Linked DNA regions of Homo sapiens. The protein of the gene in region 2 purifies or fractionates together with the protein of the main gene of each other region. This does not show direct contact. Each region holds a gene or a part of one and is shown on either strand. Other genes may lie near its edges.

The links.
Region 1: the proteins of CTDSPL2 (region 2) and NIPBL purify together in Homo sapiens (affinity purification with mass spectrometry, with the first as the bait; one large-scale study listed by BioGRID). This does not show direct contact.
Region 3: the proteins of CTDSPL2 (region 2) and CPNE8 purify together in Homo sapiens (affinity purification with mass spectrometry; one large-scale study listed by BioGRID and IntAct). This does not show direct contact.
Region 4: the proteins of CTDSPL2 (region 2) and IPP purify together in Homo sapiens (affinity purification with mass spectrometry; one large-scale study listed by BioGRID and IntAct). This does not show direct contact.

Annotation. Positions count from the first base shown.
Region 1 is NC_000005.10:36,974,080-36,977,997, reverse strand, and holds part of NIPBL (nipped-B-like protein), read right to left. Parts: intron 2,223-3,918; coding exon 1,596-2,222; intron 1-1,595. UniProt on the Homo sapiens protein: Plays an important role in the loading of the cohesin complex on to DNA. Forms a heterodimeric complex (also known as cohesin loading complex) with MAU2/SCC4 which mediates the loading of the cohesin complex onto chromatin.
Region 2 is NC_000015.10:44,433,947-44,437,864, forward strand, and holds part of CTDSPL2 (CTD small phosphatase-like protein 2), read left to right. Parts: intron 1-3,918. UniProt on the Homo sapiens protein: Probable phosphatase.
Region 3 is NC_000012.12:38,692,539-38,696,456, forward strand, and holds part of CPNE8 (copine-8), read right to left. Parts: intron 3,523-3,918; coding exon of another isoform or gene 3,506-3,522; exon of another isoform or gene 3,374-3,505; intron 1,301-3,373; coding exon 1,119-1,300; intron 1-1,118. UniProt on the Homo sapiens protein: Probable calcium-dependent phospholipid-binding protein that may play a role in calcium-mediated intracellular processes.
Region 4 is NC_000001.11:45,716,064-45,719,981, forward strand, and holds part of IPP (actin-binding protein IPP), read right to left. Parts: intron 3,278-3,918; coding exon 3,140-3,277; intron 955-3,139; coding exon 832-954; intron 1-831. UniProt on the Homo sapiens protein: May play a role in organizing the actin cytoskeleton.

The DNA.
Region 1 (3,918 bases), on a different chromosome or scaffold from region 2:
TGGATAAACAAAATGTGGTATATATACACCGTGGTACACAATCATAAAGAAGAATGAAATCATGTCCTCTGCAGCAACATGGATGCAGTTTGAGGCCATTATCTACCCTAAGTGAAATAATGCAGAAACAGAAAATGAAACACTACAGGTTCTCACTTATAAGTGGGAATTCAACAATGGGTACACACGGACATAAAGTTAGAAACAACAGACACAGGGGACTCAAAAAGGGGGAAAAAGGGACGAAGCCAAGGTTGAAAAACTATCTAATGGGTACTATGATCACTATTTGGGTGACGGGTTCACTACAAGCCCAAATCTCACCACCACACAATATACCCACGTAACAAACCCCTGTACATATATCCCCTGAATCTATATTAAAAAAAAAAAAAGACAAAGAAAAAAAAACCCAGCTCCCTAGCCAGTAAAATGAAGACTTCTAGCAATCTCTTTATTTGCATCTATTTCTGATTTACATATGTTGCAAACATTGTAGTACAACAATTACTAAATACAGTCCATTTTTTTTCAATAACATTAAAATGAGCCATCATGACAGACAGGAAATATAATACTAATCTTCAGCATGTTTCTTAGCATAGAAACACAATTATCTTGTCATGATCCTGTCAAACACTGAACACATCATATATAAAAATCAGCTCTACCCAATATCAAGAAGTTTTATCATTACCAAGAAATAAAATATAAGAACTGAAAATCAACCTAAAATATTTTAATCATAAAATTAAATCATAAAGCATGCTTTTGGTCTGATCAAATGTGTATATGCATTTATATAGCAATCAAATTCATCAATTATATTGCTAATTTGAATCACTGATTCATCAGTCTCTTAAAACATGAAAGAAATTTTGTATACAGTGTATACCAAATTACTAAGAACTTACTATGAATTTATTTTTGTTTGATTATGAAGCGCAAGGAAAGCTCATAAACTCATAGACCAGGTATGTCTTGAAACTCCATCCTAACATACTAGTCAGACAAAAGGGAACACTTCACTGTAATTACCACCAAAAGACTCTTAATTTCTAAGGTTTGCTATTTAATATTAACTCTTTCCATGATTTGTTTACTAAAAAAATTTGACATTATTAAGCCAGTAGGATCATAAACCAAGTGAAATATCTAACTGCCTAATAAGCATACACATGAGCTTTTCTTAAGTGTACCTGTTCAAAATAATTCTACAGTGGTTAACCTTGTTTTAGCAGAAAAAAATTTGAAGGTGCACAACAATATTAATGTAACTTGTGAAATATACATGTTATATAGAAATGCTAATGTTCATTTTAGCAGAAAAGCACAAATAAGTAAAATCATATAGTACATAATGAGTAACAGACCTGTAGTAGAGAATTACCAAATCTCATATAGTTGTTTCAGACAATAAATGAAATTGTTACGAATTTAACTTCTGCATTATGAGTATTAGTAATAAAAATATGTACTTGAGTAGACATAAATTATACAAAATATTCGGGAAAAAAGTAATGTGAAAAAAATTTTTGACACTATAATTACATATTTGCCCAGATGATGAAGTGGTAATAATGAGATTATTTTACCTTTATCTTGAACTTCTTTTGAGAAGCGCTCCCTTTCAATAGCTGATTCTCTCTCTATTCGCTCAATTTCAGCCAATGCATCCAATTCCACTTCATCATATATAGGTCCCTGTTGTGATATCTGTTGTTGATTCTGTACCACAGAAGTCTGGGGTTGTTTTGCAGCAACTGAAGTGTTCTGTTGTAAAACAGGCACTTGATTTGCTGGAAGGAATGCTGTTTGTTCTTGCTGCGACAAACATTGAGCAGCATTTAGTGGGCGGTTTATATCTTGTGGAGTAATGGGTGTTTTTGAAGTCTGTCCTGGGTACTGCACATTAAAAGGAATATCATTTTCTGAAACATTGCTATTTTCCACACCAGAAATCATATCCTCTTGCTGGTCCATGTCTGAAGACCTTACACGAGAAAGTCTTAATGTAAGTTTAGTAGAGTCCTTGGATGGAGAACTAATTATATCATACATTGCCGCTTTCTCACTCTGCTCTTTTTCATCCTTGCCTAATTTCATTTTCTTCTGCTTCTTTTGTTTTCTTTCTGGAGAATCTAGCAAGATATCTGGTGGAACATCTCGAGGTGATGAACAAGGTAGAGACTGAGATTGTAGGATTAAAGGTGGTCTTGAGCCTAGAAAAATAATTCGATAGAAGTAACAGTTGTGGTGGTTTCACATTTTCTTACAATGTGATAGAAATATTAATAAGTGACAATATAGTAATACTAGAAAAAAATAAGAAATTATATAATCCAAGCTACTTATTTACGAAAGATGAAAAGAAAGCTTAAAAACTTGTCCCACACAGTTGTTTAGCTTGCTAGTAGTTAATCTAAAATCTAGGTTTGAATCTAAGTATGAGTATTCAATTTTTCAGACCAGTATTATTTCTATATTTTTGTGCCTATAAAGTATACATATTTAGCTTTATAGGGGTAAAAAGTTCATTGCTTCTAAAGATGATACAACACAAATATTTTGGGTATGACCATCTCTGTTCTTTCATGGACTATCTGGGAAAACAGATATATCCTGATTAAAGTAAGAATAAGTACGCTTTTGTTAAATTACACAAAAATAACAATTTAATCCTAGAGACTATCTTACATGAATACTACTGGGATGATAACAAAAAGCAAGTGGTCAATTTACAATTACTAGAGCCTTTACTTACTTCAAAAACTGGTGGTAAAATATTGATTTATACTTTTATGTGGTCTTCTCTTTCTCCCTTAACATCATTCACATACTCTCTTCAGCTTGCTAATCCTCTTTTTATTAGAAAAATAAATAAGTTCAGTAAATTTCAAGGCCCAATAAAATATATTGAGCCCAGAGTCCATTAAATCAACCAATGTTATATGAAACAGGAAAGTGTTAAAAATAATCAGATGGAAAAATTATCCTAGTTAATAAGCCTTCAGACAAAAATTCTCCTTCAGACATGAAGGAAAAAGTGCATTGATATGCTTCAGAAATAATAGTATAACTGCATCTGAATAATGTATACATTTCTTATCACTAAACTATAAAATATTTAAAAACTTGTAAGAAATTGTAAAAATTGGTCAAGATAAAAGTTTTTTTACAGACAGAACTTAAACCTAGAACTGCCTTCAATTAAGCTTTCAGTCTTTTTCCATGATACATAAATCTGGACTTTCAGTTAGCAAGGTTAATGTATTTTAAATGTTATATATAAACATACAACTTTATTTATTGACTCTAGTGTGATAAAGATGATATGGGAGCAATTAACTATAAATGTTAGTCTAACATTTTGTGTCAGAGTTGTGAAAGGTGCTTTACATATCAATTCACTTGATTTTTACAACATTCTTGAGTATTATCTTTAAAATTTTTCAGAAATGGAACATGAAGCCTACAGAGGTTAAGAAATTTGCCCAAGGTTATGTAGTTAACAAACCTGAAGATTTAAAACAAGATTTGTCTAAGTCTGAATTGTAATATACCATTATGCCTTTGTATTTAAATTCTATGTGGCAAATTATATACACTTTAGAACAAACTTCAAATTCTAATAATTAATCTAAAAATCAAGATAGACTGACAATGCACTTACCCTTCAAAACTAGTTAGAAAACAACTTCATGACAGAAGTTCAAGCTTTTGGTGAATAATATATTAGTGAGGTTATTTGTTTTAAAGTTTTCCATTTCTATCTAAAGTTCATCTACTATTTATCTATCTAATCTCAAGAGTCAGAAGAAAAAAAGCTAGTTATCTAGATCAATCACCTATCTCCCTGTTCTCTTTCCCCGGCAATCTAAATAACTTCTCACCTTGACAACACTTGTGGGATATGTA
Region 2 (3,918 bases):
TCGTCTCAAAAAAAAAAAAAATCAGTGTATATTTTAAGAGTGTGTTTTAGTCATCAGTAATCTAACAACCCATATATTGCTTCTCTAGAGAAAACAGATTGATAATGGTTTTAGAAAAATCATTGTTATTTATTTATTTATTTATTTATTTTTTTCTTAAGAGATAGGGTCTTGACTGGGCGTGGTGGCTCACGCTTGTAATCCCAGCACTTTGGGAGGCCAAGATGGGCAGATCATGAGGTCCAGAGATCGAGATCATCCTGGCCAACATGGCGAAACCCCATCTCTACTAAAAATACAAAAATTAGCTGGGCATGGTGGCGCATGCCTGTAGTCCCAGCTACTCAGGAGGCTGAAGCAGGAGAATTGCTTGAACCTGGGAGGAGGAGGTTGCAGTGAGCTGAGATCGTGCCACTGCACTGCAGCCTGACGGCAGAGCAAGACTCAGTCTCAAGAAAAAAAAAGAAGACAGAGTCTTACTCTCTCACCTAGGCTGGAGTACAATGGCACAGTCACAGTTTACTGCAGCCTTCACCTCCTGGGCTCAAGCGATCCTCCTGCCGCAGCCTCCCAAGTAGTTGGAACTACAGGTGTGCACCACCACGCCTGGCCAAGTTTTAAAATTTTTAAATAAAGGCAGGGTCTCACTGTTGCCTAGGCTGGTCTTGAACTCTTAGTCTCAAGTGACCTCTTCCTAGGTGGGCCTTCCAAAGTGCTGAGATTACAGGTGTGAGTGAGTCACTGTGCCCGGCCAAAAACACATTCTTTTCTTTCTTATTTATTGAAGAAAACTTTAAGTCAGAGAAAACCCTATAATTTTATCAGCCTAACTCAGTTGTTTTATTTTTTGTATAGTTCTGTATTTTGCCAAATGTTTTTGATAAGTTTATTATATTTAGTAGTTTTTAAATAATTTTATAATATTAGCTAAATGGAAAAGCAGAGAAGACCATATATCAGAAATATTGATGATCCAGAAAGACCACCTGTCTTTATCACACACTTTGTTGTGAATAGGATTAAAATAACCTTCGACCAGACACAGTGGCGCACGCCTGTAATCCCAGCACTTTCGGAGGCCAAGGCAGGCGGATTACAAGGTCAGGAGTTTGAGACCAGCCTGACCAACATGGTGAAACCCTGTCTCTACTAAAAATACAAAAATTAGCTGGGCGCGGTGGTGTGCACCTGTAATCCCAGCCACGGGGGCTGAGGCAGGAGAATTGCATGAACCCGGGAGGCAGAGGTTACAGTGAGCCGAGATCACGCCACTGTGCCCTAGCCTGGGCGACAGAGTGAGACTCCGTCTCAAAAAAAAAAAAAAAAAAAAAGAATCCTTCTAACTGTGCGCAATGGCTCACGCGTGTAATCCCACCACTCTGGGAGGCCAAGGCAGGTGGATCACCTTAGGTCAGGAGTTCAAGACCAGCTTGGCCAACATGGCGAAACCCCGTCTCTACCAAAAATACAAAAATTAGGCGGGCATGGTAGCGCATGCCTGTAATCCCAGCTACTCGGGAGGCTGAGACAGGGAATTGCTTGAACCCTGGAGGCGGAGGTTGCAGTGAGCTGAGATCGCGCCATCGCAGTCCAGCCTGGGCAAGGAGAGAAACTCTGTCTCAAAACCAAAAAAAAAAAGAGAATCTTCCTGTTGTAGAGTTGTTTTTTTTTTTTTTTTGAGGCGGAGTCTCGCTCTGTCACCCAATCTGGAGCGCAGTGGCGCAATCTGAGCTCACTGCAACCTCTGCCTCCCGGGTTCAAGCGATTCTCCTGCCTCAGCCTCTTGAGTAGCTGGGATTACAGGTGTGCACCACCACGCCTGGCTAATTTTTGTGCTTTTAGTAGAGACGGGGTTTCGCCATGTTGGCCAGGCTGGTCTCGAACTCCAGACCTCAAGTGGTCCACCCGCCTCGGCCTCCCAAAGTGCTGGGATTACAGGTGTGAGCCATCGCACCTGGCCAAGTTGATATTTTATATAATGCTCCTATACTTAGTCCTTCTTCCCTAGTTGTCTTGATTTTTTTTCTTAGGTGACGGAGAAATCTGTTTTTTCCCCAAGTCCTCCTCCTCCTTTTATAATGAAGGCTTATGGAAGTAGTGGAGAGTAAAGGTGGACAGTTGTAATACCTGAAACTTGATTTCAGATTAGTCAGGCTAGAAATGTAGACTAAGTGGAAACATGCTGCTACTTTTGAAAATGTCATTTGGTGTCAAAGAGGGCAATGACTTTAGCTTTTTCTTTCATGAATATAGTAAGTTAATGTAAATTTAGTAATCATACCATTTGTAAGGTAGAGTATAAATTAACAGACCCAGAGAATTTTAGAGCTGGAGGAGACCAAAGAGGTCATCTAGTCCAATAACATTTGTGTTTTATTGTGATGAATCATTCTGAAGACTCCTTAACATGTAGTGAATGTTTGTCTTAATGAGGTTGCTGCAGGATGAGTTGTATATGATGGAAGGATGAAGACAGCTCTGATTAATTAATGACTCATCTCCCATTTTGACAGCTCTTTGTTTGTTTATTTTTTAGGTAAAATTTACATGTGAAATGCCAGATCTGATGTCCAATAATTTCTTTTGCTGTTGAGGAAACAAAGTGCTAGAATGATTGCATGACTTAAGCAGTGTCTCACAGCTAACTAATGATAGATTAAGGACTGGAAACTGAGTGTGTCCACCTCTTAGTCTGGAGGTCATTCCTTTAGTAACTCCTTCAGGAGTCTACTCTAGAACCTTGCATGCATGTATTATTTTTTATATAGCCAACTGTAAATATACATAAAGTTTTACAGCAAATCTTGACTTTGTTGCCTTTAATGTTTGATTTGTGATCTTTTTGTAATTTTCTTTATTTATATGTGTTATCTACTCTTGTTTCTCTCTTAATGCATGACACATCAGAACAGGTTGAGTATCCCTCATCCAAAATGCTTGGTATCAGAAGTGTTTTGGATTTCAGATTTTTTTGGATTTTGGAATATTTGCATATACATAATGAGGTATCTTGGAAAGGACCCAAGTTTAAACATGAAATTCATTTATGTTTCATAAGTACCTTACACACATAGTCTGAAGGTAATTTTAAACAATATTTTTAATAGTTTTGTGCATGAAACAGTTTTGACTGCATTTTGACTGACTCGTCACATTAAGTCGGGGTGGAATTTTCCACTTGTGACATTATGTATGTTGGTGCTCAAAAACTTGGATTTTGGGGCATTTCGGATTTTCAGATTTTTGTATTTCAGATTTTCCTAGTAGGGATGCTCAAGCTGTATACCACTTCTCATTCAATTAGCAAATACATTTGTAAAGAGGGCACATAAGTAAGTTCTAATTTGTTGAGAATTCTTCATATACAATGTGCTATTTTCTCTTAATGTTGTTTAGGTAGAAATGTGTGCATTCAAGACCTTGGGAGCAGATTATCAACTGAATTTATGCTTTTATCATTATTGTAATCATATTGTTAATACAAGGCAATTTGAAACCATAATTGTCTGCCTCAAAAATTGCTTGGTATCATGGATTTTGTGAAGGGGAAGGAAATCTTATGAGGAAGAAACTTTTAGTTTTATTTATAAGCCCATTTTTGTAGGCAAGAATTAAGTATTGATGTGAAGATTGTTTATGTTTCAGTGATACGGTCTCCTTCACCCCAATTATATGGCCTTTTTGAGAGAGATTAGAAAAATTGTGGCTTAGTTCAACAAAGATTGAGTTAACTCGTGTGCCAGGTTACTAGAATTATGGATCCAGCATCTACCTTCAAGACTCTTACAGTCTAGTGCAATTAAAGAGAAAGAAACAGATTATTTAATACAATTTAAGAGCTAAATTAGAGATAATCACAGGGTTTACACAGGTTTGAGGCTATAGAGGTGGTTACTTATACATGATACTTGGGCTGAG
Region 3 (3,918 bases), on a different chromosome or scaffold from region 2:
ACATTTACTTTTCTGATTTTGGAGGCTAAACCAGTATATATTTGTATAGGTTTGGTTACAAGGAATGAACACAGAGGCAGGAAAGGCAGCAAAGGAGAGAATTACAGAGACAGAGAAAGGGAAACATTCAATGGTGAGAAGAAACATATGAAAGGAAAATTAATAAACCTCATTTAGTTTAACACAATTATTTCTTTTCTTAGGTTTTAAAAATGATGGTACATTACAGAGAGCCACACATTCTTTGATACTCTTCCCATTGAGAAGTGAAGGTTAATTCCTCTACCTTGAACCTGGGATGGTCTTAGTAACTTGCCTGACCAATAGGATGTTGCAGAAATAACATTTTGGGACTTCTAAGAATATGATATAAACATCCTTGGAGTTTCTGTCCTAGACTTTTAGATTACTCACCCTGGGAAAGCTGGCTGCTACATAAGAAATCTTGCTACAGTGAGACCACTATACAGTTCTGAAGCCCTCCATAACTACAGAGACAGGCCATATGTAAAACAAGGGAGAGTTGTCCAGGCAACCCCAGCTTTTCAGCTATCCAAGCTCAGGCCCAAGACATGAATGAACATGAGCAAAGAAGTTATGTTAGGAGACATATCAGCCCCAGAAGACATAACATGGAGAAGATCTAAGGAATTCAAAAGACAGCCAGAACTAAGTTGAAAAATATGGCCCCAGTCACCAATTCCAGGCATCTCTAGCCATTCAAGTCACCTAAGCTGAGACTCCAGGTACTGCAAAGCAAAAATGCGCTGTCTCCCATTATATTCTGCTTGAATTCCTGAGGCACAAATCATAAGCATAATAGAATGATATTGTTTGATATCTCTAAGTTTTAGGAAGGTTTGTTAGCAAGCAATAGATAACCAAAATAGACCCCCATTTGTAAATCAGGTGGGTGCACTTCAGGTAGATTTATGGCTAAGCTATTTAGCTGTCCTTTTTTCCCATTAAGTTCACACTCCAAAGTCAATTACTTACCAAAATTAAGCTACAGTCAGTAAAGCTTGCTACTTGACTGACTAAAGAATAAGTACCAAAGCAATATTAAAAGGTCTAACATTAATTTTTCAAAACATCAAATCCTTTTGACAAATTCTTACCAAAGCAAATTCGTGAGATATCCTTCCATCTGGAGGCAGTTTTGCACCAAATCCTAGAGCTGGAAACATTTTATCACTGTCATAATCTTGAACAATTTCTCCCACTGCTTTTAGTGCCATACCATAGGCATTCAGTTGGTAAGGATTCATGTAGTGGAGGGAAGTGGGCTGAGCAGGGTTGCCTGATGACAGAACACATATTTCAAACATAAGCAATTAGGGTAAATAAATTTAACAAAATTTTTCTTGGTGTCTATTTCAGAATGAAATATTCAAAATTATGTTTTTCTGCCTATATACAGTGTGTCAAATCATTTCTTTTTGGATGGATATTAACACAGAAATATTTGTTATATTATATTAGACATATAGAAAGTTCTAAGATATGCCAAAGCATACGCAGAAGTTTTCAGAAATGATTCTTATTTTCAATGCCACAGGGTATTTTTGAGTTTTTGTTCTGGAAGTATAAAAGTACTTTTGTTAATCTTATTTTATTGTAATCTTTATTTTTAAACAAAATCATGTGCCTTTAGCTTGAATCCTTATGCCTATGGCAAGATGACCCAATAGATTTAATGGACTTCAATAATTATGAAGGCTTCCTATAAATAACTGAATATTTGAGAAGTATCCCAATTTAGCACTTAAAAAAGGGAAGTATAGTGATTTTCAAGTGCAGGCTGATTAAATATCTAGATCTAAAAAATTCTTCACAACTTTCGAATGAGACATTAAGCTAGGAGCCAGAGGCCAGAGTCAAGTCTTGCCATTTGTATGGCAGCCTCTGTAAAATAAATCCTACCACTGTGTTTACCCGGAGGACAAAATGAGATTACACGTTTAAAAGTGATTAAAAATAATAAAGCACCATAAAATTGTAAGCTGAACTGCTGCAGTTATTATAGTCTGGGTCATCCACAAGGTTCTGAATTTCAAAATGCTTATACTGTGTAGGATGTTGCACTTGAATAGTGATGAAATTGAGAGAAAGTGTAATGTATTAATATGTGCTACCACTCAAACACATTGAAATTCACAACAAGTTGCCCTAATTACCAGCATAAAGGCAGCCTGAAAGTCCATTTGGTTCCTTAAATAAAAATGGAAAGTTAAATGAGACTTGTAGCAGCATATGAACCTCAATTTTACGTTAAAGCATTGTCTGAAGAAGAAAAGCCTCAGGACATAGTTTTTCTGATAAGGAACAAAAGTAACAAAAAGCACTTGAGATCCAGAGAGAAACAAAATAAAGATCTCCCCTTGGGTTATTTGACAGGTAATTATACACATAATATTTTTGTCCTAAAAACAATTAATTGAACTTTTTTTTATTTTATATTTCCAAGAGTTACCAGCGTTCAAGGGCTGGCTCCACATAACAAAATCACTAAAAAAGTATCTTCTTATCAAAATGGCCTAATGTTCCCCTCAACTTGACTAAACTTGTAGAAAGTTCCTTCCTGACTATAAGACCCTGACCGCTCTTTTCTTACAGCTCTCACTTTAGAAAACTTGCAATTGTAAATTCTTCCTCTGCACCTTTGAGATGTAAATCTTCTACAACCAAGGAGTATCTTTCTCAAGGACATGGAAGGCATCCCTTTGAAATATAAACATCAAGAAAAACAGCAGCCCTATCTTCCAGTCTCCGTGAGAAGATAGAAGCCTAACTTCAATAAGAACCAATTAGCAAACAGAGATGGCCTAAGCACACAAACCAACTTCCGGGCTAATGTCCTCTAGGACTTTTCCAGTAGCTCACCTCAGCAAGCACAAACACTCCAACCTTTTGTTTTGGAGTAGTTGAGTTCAATTTTTGTCCTCTGTTGTAACAGTCTTGACCCCTTTGCAATGGTCTTAAATAAAGCCTTTCTTGCCTTTTTAATGTGTCCAGTGTGATTTTTCTTTGACACTTGCTTCTAAAGTAGGGACTTTGCCACTTGATCCAAAGCCCAGTGGAATCAGAGATTTAAAAATACCATTACTAGACTAAATGGTTATTTAACACAACTCTCATGCCTGAAATCCTAGCACTCTGGGAGGCTGAGGCAGGTGGACAGCTTGAGCCCAGGAGTTTGCAACCAGCCTGGCCAACATGGTGAAACCCTGCCTCTACAAAAAATACAAAAATCAGCTGGGTGTGGTGGCATGTGCCTGTAGTCTCAGCTGCTCAGGAAGCTGAGATGTGGGAGATCACTTGAGTCCGGGAGGTCAAGGGTGCAGTGAGCCCCTGATAGTGTCACTGTACTCCAGCCTGAGCAACAGAGCAAGACCCTGTCTCAAAAACAAACACAAACAAACAAACAAACGAATACTTCCCCCAACTCTCAAACTCACAAATATAGAAGAGTTTTAATCCAATGGTGACAATATGGCAAATACTTTTACTTCACTATGAAAACTGTAAATAAAAAAATATAATTAGTACCCCAGAACATTTAAACATTTTAACCTAACATGCATAGCTGGGCCCTTTGTACCCATACAAAGATGTTACCTATCTCTTTCCAGCATCTTCCTCTACACCAGTCTCTTCACATTACTGCTAATGATACTTTCCCTCCCACCTCTACCTCTCAAGTTGCCACCCTGTCCTGAAATTCACCTTCTCCTCCTCCAACTTATGTCTCACACATACTAGACAACCCTTTTTGTTTATTCCAGCCCTTATTGTCTTTTCTCTTATACTGTTATGGATCTTGTGTTCTATACTAAAAAAAAAAAAAAAATGGCAATTTAAAGTATTGAGTCAACTCCTTGAGTCTGGGACAGTGTTTGTATTTCCTCTGTATCTGCA
Region 4 (3,918 bases), on a different chromosome or scaffold from region 2:
AAAACAGCTTACTACCTACCTCTCAAGAGTATAGTAGACAATTAAAATAATGTTTGTATACCACTTTAATATGCAACATAGAATCCTTTAAATCTGTCACAGGATTATATGTTATGTGAGCGGCATCACAATGTACTTTGTAGAAAAAAAACGCTAAAGAAGCCTATAGACCATGAAAATAATTTATTTTTATTTATTTTTTGAGATAGAGTCTCACTGTTACCCAGGCTGCAGTGCAGTGGCACCATCTCGCTCACTGCAACCTCTGCCTCCTGGGTTCAAGCAATTATCCTGCCTCAGCCTCCCTAGTAGTTGGGATTACAGGTGTGTAGTAACATGCCCAGCTAATTTTTGTATTTTTAGTAGAAATGAGGTTTCACCACGTTGGCCAGGATGGTCTCGAACTCCTAACCTCAGGTGATCCTCCTGCCTCAGCCTCCCAAAGTGCTGGGATTACAGGCATGAGCCACCACACCCAAAAACTGTTTCTGATACTCTCTCCCTACTTAGAAATATTTACTTAGATGTTCATGGGAGAGAAAAGACAATAACAGATAACACTTCAAATGTTTATTGTGCTAGTCAGATATTCCTGCTTACTTACAATTTTTAATTCTAGCCTTGTTTATTTCTGAAAAAATCAAATCAATTATTTTAGCAATACAGAAATAAAAGTCAATGATAGGAGGTAAAAAGCAGAACTTCTATGCTGCTAGTATCAGTCATTCAATACTAACAGACTTAAAATATACTTTTGTGAAAATAAGGCCTCAAACTCAAACAGTTTTTCAGAACTACATTTTGAGGAAAAATATTTTATAAAGTGATTACCTTGCATTTCACAGCACCCAAAGTAGTAGCGTGACACAGCCATGTTACCAACTACTTCCCATTTATTTTCATCAGGATCAAATCGTTCAATGGTGTTCCCTATCTCAGCTCCAACCCATCCACCTGTAATGAAATAGAAAAATGTTTGTTTCCGGGATAAAAGATTCTTATTTATGACAAAGACCTTAGAAAACATCTAAACCAAATACTTCATATTATAGATATCACATGAGCCAAAGAGGTTATCTGTTCCACGATCCCATGAAAAAGTTAGAATTTGACCATGAGTAGAACTCAGGTCCTTTGCATAACTGATGCTCTTTTGAGAAAAAAAAAAAAAAAAAAAAAAAGGAATTCAAGTCTTTTAACTCCCTATTTTTCACTAAAGACTAAAACAAAACAAAACAACAAAAGCCCCAAAACTTCAATATATTGCATGGAAAAGATGGTATTTTGCAAAACTACCTTTTGAAATTACTTCTGGCTATTTAGAATGTTTATCCTAATCAAGGCCAGCTCCAAACCTAATCAGAGTATACCGTGTATTTGGTGTAATTTCAGGAATTTCAAAAAGGCCCCTTATCCCCACAATAACATTTTCTTAACACTCTCCAATTCTTTTTTTTTTTGAGATGGAGTCTCACTGTGTCACCCAGGCTGGAGTGCAGTGGTGCAATCTCGGCTCAGGCTCAGTGCAAGCTCCACCTCCTGGGTTCATGCCATTCTCCTGCCTCAGCCTCCGGAGTAGCTGAGACTACAGGCGCCCACCACCACGCCCAGCTAATTTTGTTTGTATTTTTAGTAGAGACAGGGTTTCACCATGTTAGCCAAGTTGGTCTCGATCTCCTGACTTCATGATCCGCCCGCCTCAGCCTCCCAAAGTGCTGGGATTACAGGCGTAAGCCACCATGTCCAGCCAACACTCTCCAATTCTTAAAACTGAAAATATTATTTCCCACAATTAACTGAAAAATGCAGATACTTATGGAGGTAATAAAATATAATAGATTAAATTCACCTTAAGGTAACTGATATTTTTTCCACAATAGGTTTGGATGAGGGGAAGACACTGAGTTACAGTGAACTGAAGAAGGAGTGAGAAGGAGAAAATAGGGGAGGCTGAGAGCTACATCAACTTATAACTTTCCCTAGGAACAACCTTGATTGTAACATTTGTTACACAGATAATCAAAGTAGAATACCTTGCTCATAATCATTCACTACATATACAAGAATAAAAATAATATAGTACAGAACTTCCTTGTGATATATTTAATTTTTTGGTATGTGCTTTCTTATATTAGACATAATTAGGCCACTATGCAGGGTGGTAAAAATGTTATATGCTTAATTAAAATAATGAGATTTAACTACTCAGCTAAAGTACTTCACTGGATGTCTCATCTATATTTTATCTCCAGTAATACAATTTTGAGAATAAGAATTTAAAGAGCTGACAAGTGCATCTACAGCATACAGTAGCTCCAGAGATACCTGCAGAAGAATGTGTGTGACTAGCAGCTTGGTCAGCCAGCCAACTGGCCAGGCAGGCATCTACCATCTGCCCAAGAACTGATGCATCTGCCCAACAAGGCTCTGCCCTGCAGGTGCTCAGGTCCTCCTGTACCATCCCCCGCCTGAGTGCCTCCTTAGGATGGACAGCCCAGGAGCACCCCCTCCAATCCCTGACCAGCTGACCCCCACCTACACCTTCCCCTAAGACCTTGCCCAGCCTCCAGAGTATACAGATTAAAGCCAGTTGGTTTTTAAAAAAAGAATGTAAAGAGCTGAAAAGAGGGAAAGAACATCTCCAAAGTCATCAGAACCCAATAATTTAAATAATATTAGCTATCTTTATAAACATTGCATATTCTCACTTCTTTGTGGGATCTAAAAATCAAAACAATTGAACTCATGGAGATAGAGAGTAGAAGGATGGTTACCAGAGGCTGGGAAGGGTAGTGTAGTGGGGGTGGGGAGGGAGGAGGTGGGCATGGTTAATGAATACAAAAAAAAAAAAAAAAGAATGAATAAGACCTAGTATTTGATAGTGCAACAGGGTGACTATAGTCAATAATTTAATTGTACATTTAAAAATAACTAGAAGAGTATAACTGGATTGTTTGTAACATAAAGGATAAATACTTGAGGAGATGGATATCCCATTTTACAAGATGTGATTATTACGCATTATGTGCCTGTATCTCATGTGCCCCATAAATATATATACCTATTATGTATCCACAAAAATGAAAATTAAAAATACATAAACAATATTAGCTATCTTTAAACTGAACAACATAATTACCCAAAGCATAGATAGCCCCATAACACACACACACTCCTAAGCCGCAGCGGGGATGATTCATCGAAGCTACAGTTGTCCACTGTTTAGTAACTGGATCATAGCATTCAGTACAATCAAAAATCATTGAATCCTTTTCACCTGAGTTAAATAAAAGAGACAAATATTATAAAGTTTAGTAATGCCAACAGACTAGCACCATAACACAATATTCAGTAGTATTCCCTATCGTCAAAAATTCAACCATTATGTCTGATTTTATACTATTCATTAACTTTCATTTGCCTGTCAAGCAGTATTTTGAATCTAGAGCACTGTCATTTATTAAAGCCCACTTATGAAACAGAGGCACAATTTTCCTATTATCTATTTCTACCACCCAAACAATCAAACAATCCATGTAATGTTTTAGGATACAATTTGCATTTTAACACTTCTATATTTTTTTTCACATATTAGTTTTGGTGGCTGGCCCTGGTACAATTTGAGTTTTAATGTAATCCTTTTCTAACAACAAACAGAAAATGAAATTTTTCTTTTTTTGGAGACGGAGTCTCGCTCTGTCGCCCAGGCTGGAGTGCAGTGGCACAATCTCGGCTCACTGCAAGCTCCGCCTCCTGGGTTCATGACATTCTCCTGCCTCAGCCTCCTGAGTAGCTGGGACTACAGGCGCCTGCCACCGCGCCCAGGTAATTTTTTGTATTTTTAGTAGAGACGGGGTTTCACCTTGTTAGCCAGGATCACAAGATCCTGACCTCGTGATCCGCCCGCCTCAGCCTCCC